Homo sapiens: one gene and its partner. The protein of the gene in region 1 purifies or fractionates together with the protein of each later gene. This does not show direct contact. Each region holds a gene or a part of one and is shown on either strand. Other genes may lie near its edges.

Region 1 (3,500 bases):
ATTCTCCACTAACTGGCTGAGCCCATGGAGTTAAGATGCTACCAGTCAGAATACACTAGGATTCCATACCAAGAACCATCTCTAGACAGGTCCAGTACCTGCAGGTTTGTGGCGCAGGGACATCCTGATTATCTCACTACCTGTGCGGTAAGCAAAGCGATTCACTTTCTGGTCATAAAACCAGTCCCCAGTTGCTTTCTTCAACTCTCTGGGAAGAAATAAAAGAAAATGACAGATGGATAAAGAATGGTTCTTGTCTAATAAAGGCTGAGGAAAGAAATTCTCACCACGGCCAAGGCCTCGCCCCCTCTCTACTCAGCCATAGGTGACACTCACATTTCCTTGGCGCACACCTTGCACCTCCAGGTACCATTGCTTTCCTGTATGCGGCAGTCCCGACACACCAGGTGATTACAACCCCGACAAGTATTGGTTTTGGGACTCAAACGGCCCAGGCTCTCCTGGCACCGGGCACAGGTCCGATCACTGTAGTGTTGGCTGCCCCTCTTGGCCCCTTTCCTTTTTATCTCCAGTAACTCATTCTTTAGTCGCCTGCCAAGACCCAAAACAGAAGCGTAAGTGGATTCAGGATATGCATAGATTGGATGGAGAGGGGTTGAGAGGTAAAGACAGTAAGACTATTTGGTTCTGTGGAAGCAACAAACTCAGAGCCCAGCGTGACCCAATAAGTAGTGGTAAACATCACATATACAAATTCCTATGAAAGTCAGGTGGGAGACATAAGGAAAAGCCCAGACATCATTGGTCAAAGGCCTGGGACCCCATGCGTTTTGGGGAACTCTTACCTAATCCTTTTCTCATCTGCTTTCCGGACCTCTTCATCTCGCTGTAGAACACTGAGAATCAAATCCTTTTCCTCCTCAGACAGAAAAGAAAGGTCCAGTAACTCCGACATGATTTACTCAACTTTTTCTTCTACTCTTCTTTCTTCAAAACAACCAGACAAGGAGAGCTACCAGAGTTGCCTGAAATGACAAAAGAACTAATTTCACACAGATGATTTACTCAAGAATAGGCCCACAGCCCTAAACCCTTTCAATAGGTTCCTTTCCCCTTGAGCCAAGCTAAAGAGACAAAGTAGAAGTATCTGACCTATTTAGTCTTCCTACTCCCATCCGAAACATGCCCTGAAAATGAAGAGTCCTTGATTTTTCAGAAAGAAAAAGTTATTCGTGACTCTGGGAAAAGGATTGGTTATTCAGTATATGCATCTTAGTCTGGAAAGAACATAGAACAGCTGAGTCAATCTCCCCCTCCACCAAGTGAGTCCTCAATCATCCAATTTTTAATACTTTAAATGTTCTCAAATCTCAAGCCTATTAACCCAAATAACCAGGCAGCTGGTCTCTGCAGTGAAGGAGAAAAGCACATGAAGGCTCCTGCCAGTTTAAGCCCAGTTGTCTATTCCTAACCAGCTTCCATTCTCCCAGGAGTCAGTCAGCTTTCTGCTATACTTCAAAACTTCCACCCCCTACTCTATCTCTCAAAGTTCTTATCATACTAGCACTCTAGCACTACCTCCAGGATATCTTTCCCAAATTCATGAACACTTGTTGAGCACTACGCTGACAGGCATTGTGTAAAGTGCTGGGGATACAAAGATGAGTAAGGCACAGTTCCTACCCTTATGAAAATCACAGAGTAGCAGGGGAGACAGACACACATAAATACAGTACAACGCATTAAGTGCTATCAGAGGGATTATAAGGGACTATAAATTAAGTGCTATGAGAACTTAGGGAAGAAAGCAACTCATTCTATCTTGCATAGAGAGAGGAAAGAGAGCAGTATACATGGGAAATTTCACAGAAGAGGTGGATTTTGCCTTATCAGAGGACAAATTTCCTGGTAGGGAAGAATGGTAGGAAAGATAGTTTGGGACCAGATTACATAACTCTTAAAAACTTTTTTAAAATTTTAAGAATTTTGGCTCAGCATGGAGGCTCTCACCTGTAATCCCAGCACTTTGGGAGGCTGAGGCAGGAGGATCTCTTGAGCCTAGGAGTTCAAGACCAGCCTGGGCAACACAGGGCGACTCAGTCTCTACAAAAAGAAAAATCAAAACTTAGCTAGCCATGATGGTACACGGCTGCATTCCCAGCTACTCGGGAGGCTGAAGTGGGAGGATTGTTTGAGCCTGTGAGGTTGAGGCTACAGTGAGCTGAGATCACGCCATCACATGTGGCCCACTCTAGCCTGGGCAACAAAGCAAGATCCTGTCTGGAAAAAATTTTTTTTAATTTTAAAATTTACTGCATAGACAATAGAAATCCACCAAACATCTCTGATGTTGCTTTTTGATGCTGGGAAATCACATGATGAAATTCACTTTACAAAGACATATTATAGCTATATCGCTCTAGTTATAATATGAAAGACTGATTTAGAGGACAAATCAGAGGACAATTTGGTAGTACATACATTTAAAATAGGCATATACTTAACCAAGCAATATGACTTCTAAGAATTTACCTAATAGAAATATTCATACAAATGCACAAGCAAGAGTATATGCACAAGACTATTACTGCAACATTATTTGTAAGAACAGAAACAGTTATTTAACATAGGAATCATTAAACAAAATAATATGTCCCCATAATGGAACATTATGTCGCCATTAAAAATGTGGTAGATACACACGTACTGACATAAAAATATGGCCATGAGTGAAAAAGTAGTTGTAGGACAATAAAAAATGATCTTTTATAAAGAATTTATCTAAATATTTGTATATGCAAAGAGAAAGGTCTAGAACAAAAGCCACTATCATTGGTTTCCCTTGGGGAGTAGAATTGGGAAGGGGCAACTTTCACTTTTTACTTCACATAGTTCTAATTTGTTTTTACATATATCTTCCATTTATATCTCAAAAAAGAAAACAATACAAATGAGGCAGAGATATTATTACAATACTGCAGCAAAAGACAATCTAGATTTACTAACTGTGCCTCTAAACAATTAGACCAGTCATTTTATTTTTCATTTCATTTTATTTTTCATTTTTAGAGACAGAGTTTCACTATGTTGCCCAGCCTGGACTCAAATTCCTGGGCTCAAGTGATCTTCCTGCCTCAGCCTCCCAAGTAGCTGGAACTATAGACAGAGCCACCGTGCCCAGCAGAAGTCATTTTATTTCTGACTCTTTGGTTTCTCATCTACAAAACGACCCACCTCAAACGTTGTTTAAAAAATTAAATAATGTGTGTTAAAGGGCCAATCACAATGTTTGGAGTACAAATACTTGCTGAATCTTCTAAAATGATAAAGGCCTGAGCCAGGCAGCAAGAAAAAACAGAATAGGTTTGAGAAGTAGAATTGACAGAATAGGGAGACTGACTGAGCAGAGAGGATGAAGAAGGTGAAGTCAAAGATGCCTAGTTCACAGTCAAGATTAAACAACTGACTGGCTAGTGACAGCCCTCATAGCAATAGAAGATGTAAGGAAAGAAACAGGTTTGGAAGTAAGGCAAAAAGTT
Region 2 (3,500 bases), on another chromosome or scaffold:
CACACAGGGTTCCCTGAACCCTTTTTAATGCAAAGTCTGTGCATCTTGAGTGAAAGGGGTTCCCTTCTTTTGAGGATCCCTTTAAGTGGGTGCTACCTAAGACTGCAGGTCCACGGTCTCAAATAATTCTCTTCTTTCCTCCAAACCAAGAAGTCACGAATAACCTAAATTAAAAATAAATGTTCACTGCATCAAATGTGTAGCCAACAATTTGGTGCCAGGCACCGTGCCTCACGCCTGTAATCCCAGCACTTTGGAAGGCCGAGATGGGCGGATCACTTGAGGTCACGAGTTCAAGACCAGCCTGGCCAACATGGTGAAACCCTCTCTCTACTGAAAATACAAAATTAGCCTGGCATGGTGGCGGGTGCCTGTAATCCCTGCTACTCAGGAGACTGAGGCAGGAGAATCACTTGAACCCGGGAGGTGGAGGTTGCAGTGAGCCAAGATCACTCCATTGCACTCTACTAGCCTGGGCAACAAGAGCGAAACTCCAATTCAAAAAAAAAAAAAAAAAAGTGCTGGGATTACAGGCGTGCCACCACACCCAGCCCTAGGGTTTCAATTACTTAGAACACAAAAGATGAACTACAAATAATTCATCTAATAAACCTTTTAAATTTTTAGCAAAAAAAATTATTTCCATTTTAAAATAAAACATTTATTAATTAATTATTTCTTGGAATACCTTTTAGGCAGGCTTACATCAATGTATTACAACTTGAAACCAAATGAAGAGAAAAACGCAGCTTAATTCTTCGAAGCCAAACTCACCCTTCTTGCCTTGCTCTGATATTTGATAGCTTTTTTTGTTTCTTCTTTAGCGTGTTCTACATAGTCTGTGGCATTCATAACATTTCTTTCTATGTTGTTGATCATTTCACCCTTAAAACAAAAAGTTTCAAACTTAGAAGACATTTTCAAATGGCTTAATCATGTATCTTTAAGACAACCATAGAACAAAGGTTTTATATAAACACGATGTGCATGTAATGGATACTGAGGGTTTTTTTCACATTTACAGAAAGATAAAAGATGAGGCCATTATACATGTGCCAGTGCAAAGCAATCAAAACTCAATTTATATTTTAAAAAGAATGAAAAGGAATGGGCCACCATGTTGATAATTAAAGGCACCTCAAGTCAATTCTGAGATACCTTTAACACGCAGACACTTTCGACAGATGGGCAGGGTGAAGGGAGGCAGCCAGCTTTTGGTTGAACTAGTATTTTACCATTATGCACAGACAGACAATATACAAAGAATGACATCTTTTCCACAAAGTAGAAAATTGTAACTACTTCTTTAAATCAGTAAACTGAGCATAGCTCACATCTGACACTCAGCTGACTACATTAATGAGCAAAATGTAAACAGAGGTGAATTCAGCAAAGTGTGAGGGAGGTAACGTATTACCTGGTTGTCTGTCCAGACACAACCTGCAGCAGTGAATCGTAAAGCATTGAAGAATGACGGAGAGTTAACTCACTCAGTCACAAACTTCAACTTACTAGTAATCTCTGACTATGCACACATTTGCATTAGATGAGTCAATATAATGCAATACCAACAGACTTCTAAAAGGAAACAGTGAAACAAAGCCAGGGATGCAGCCATTTTTCTAACGGAGCTTAATGCAATGCATTTGGTATAGAGCAATTACAATTGAAGTCTAAGGTACTACAAAAGCTTTAGTAATTACAGAAATCATCTCTCGTTCTTTCTGTCCAGCTGGTTTCCTTTGGAATGCTTCCTGGAAATAAGTAACCAATGGTAATCAGACTCCCCACACTCCACTTACCATATAATGAATGGCAACGGGGCCCCCAAAATCAAAAAGGAGTAAGATCGTCCCATCCCTGCCCTCTGTGTAGCTGTTGGTTTCCTCTAGCAAATGCTTATACATACAAACATTAGCCGGGCGTAGTGGTGCAAACCTGTGGTCCCAGCTACTCGGGAGGCTGAGGTAGGAGAACTGCTTGAGCCCAGGAGGCAGAGGTTGCAGTGAGCCAAGATTGTACCACTGCACTCCAACCTGGGCAACAGAGCAAGACCCTGTCTCAAAAAAAAAAAAAAAAATAGGCATGGTGCCTGAGTTTTTCACACACATTCTCATTATAAAGTTCTTCAAAATACAGTGTTTCTTAACAAGGTTGCTGAAGCAGGCAGGAACAATCCTGTGTGTGGATGGATTCCTATCCTTACACAATCCAGGCAGTCTCAGAAAATAAGCCCATCAGATGTGAACCTACTTAGGGGATGACTCCAGCCAAAACAGATCCGAAACCAGGCTCAGGACAAGTGAGGAAACCATTTACTTAGGATGGTTTGATATAAATGCTTCCGCTTCACCTGGTGGTCAGCTGAATCCTAACCAGCAACAGAGTCTTATCTCCATGGTATTTGAAAAATAACGAGAAGACCTTATTCAAAGACAAAGAGCGAGTGTGAACATACCCATGCACATCACAGAGCATGTGATCTGTGATCCATCCCGTACTTTACATGGAGAGTTCAATATATACATACATACATATATATGTGTGTATTTTTTTTTTTTTTTTTTGGAGACAGGGTCTCACTCTGTCACCCAGGCTGGAGTGTAGTGGCATGATCATAGCTCACCACAGCCTTGAACTCATGGGCATAAACAATCCTCCCACCTCAGCCTCCCAGAGGAGTTTTCTATTTATTAAGAATTGCATTAACTCTTCGGTTCACTCAGAAGGGCCTTTCCACACCTGCTTTCACTCCCTATCTGTGTTACTGGGCAGATGGGAAACCCCGTGTAACAGGCACAAGCTTGCATCTGTGTCATAGATTGTATCCCCACTTGGGGTTGATTCTTTCAGACATTTCTCCTAGTTATTACTGTAATATATGCTTCTTATAGAAAATCTGAAAATAAATACTTTTAGAGAAGATTAAAATTCCCATAGTCTCACTGCCATTACACTGTTTGATATACGCCTTTCCTTCTGTGGATACTGTTTTATGGAGCCAAGCTCGTGCCATGTGTTTGTGTTTATGTACTCATACATATGTACGGGCATACACAGAAGATCTTTGTATCTCCCTTTTCTCTTAATTCTAGCACAAACATCTGCATATTTCAGTAAGAATTCTCCATGAACAAAGTTTAGGTTGCCTATGGTTGCCTAAAAGGCTGACCTATGAACACTCCATAATTTAATCAACTGAACCAGTCCCTTCCTGTTAACAGTTCAACTGTTAAAGCTGCTTCCAGCATTTCAGCATCACATATAACACTGCAATTAACCTGAATTTGGTGGATCCAAAATAACAGCTTTCCTAGATACATCCACTAGACAGAGTGGGATGCAGTAAGATTTTACACATGACTGATATCTCTCTTGGAGAATGCAAGAGTCTGTAACTACCTGAGTCTCCACAAACATAGCCATGTCCATGAACATCTCATGCAACTCTCGGATGCTGGTCTCCAGCTTCATGATGTCCTTGTGACGTGACTCGATTT

What was found. Proteins that work in one complex are often made in the same cells at the same time.
Region 2: the proteins of SYTL4 (region 1) and STX2 purify together in Homo sapiens (affinity purification with mass spectrometry, with the first as the bait; one study listed by BioGRID). This does not show direct contact.

Annotation. Positions count from the first base shown.
Region 1 is NC_000023.11:100,701,122-100,704,621, forward strand, and holds part of SYTL4 (synaptotagmin-like protein 4), read right to left. Parts: intron 2,065-3,500; 5' UTR 1,972-2,064; intron 987-1,971; 5' UTR 917-986; coding exon 807-916; intron 553-806; coding exon 337-552; intron 209-336; coding exon 99-208; intron 1-98. UniProt on the Homo sapiens protein: Modulates exocytosis of dense-core granules and secretion of hormones in the pancreas and the pituitary. Interacts with vesicles containing negatively charged phospholipids in a Ca(2+)-independent manner.
Region 2 is NC_000012.12:130,797,751-130,801,250, forward strand, and holds part of STX2 (syntaxin-2), read right to left. Parts: coding exon 3,403-3,500; intron 1,441-3,402; exon of another isoform or gene 1,418-1,440; intron 886-1,417; coding exon 775-885; coding exon of another isoform or gene 751-774; exon of another isoform or gene 640-750; intron 165-639; coding exon of another isoform or gene 93-164; exon of another isoform or gene 10-92; intron 1-9.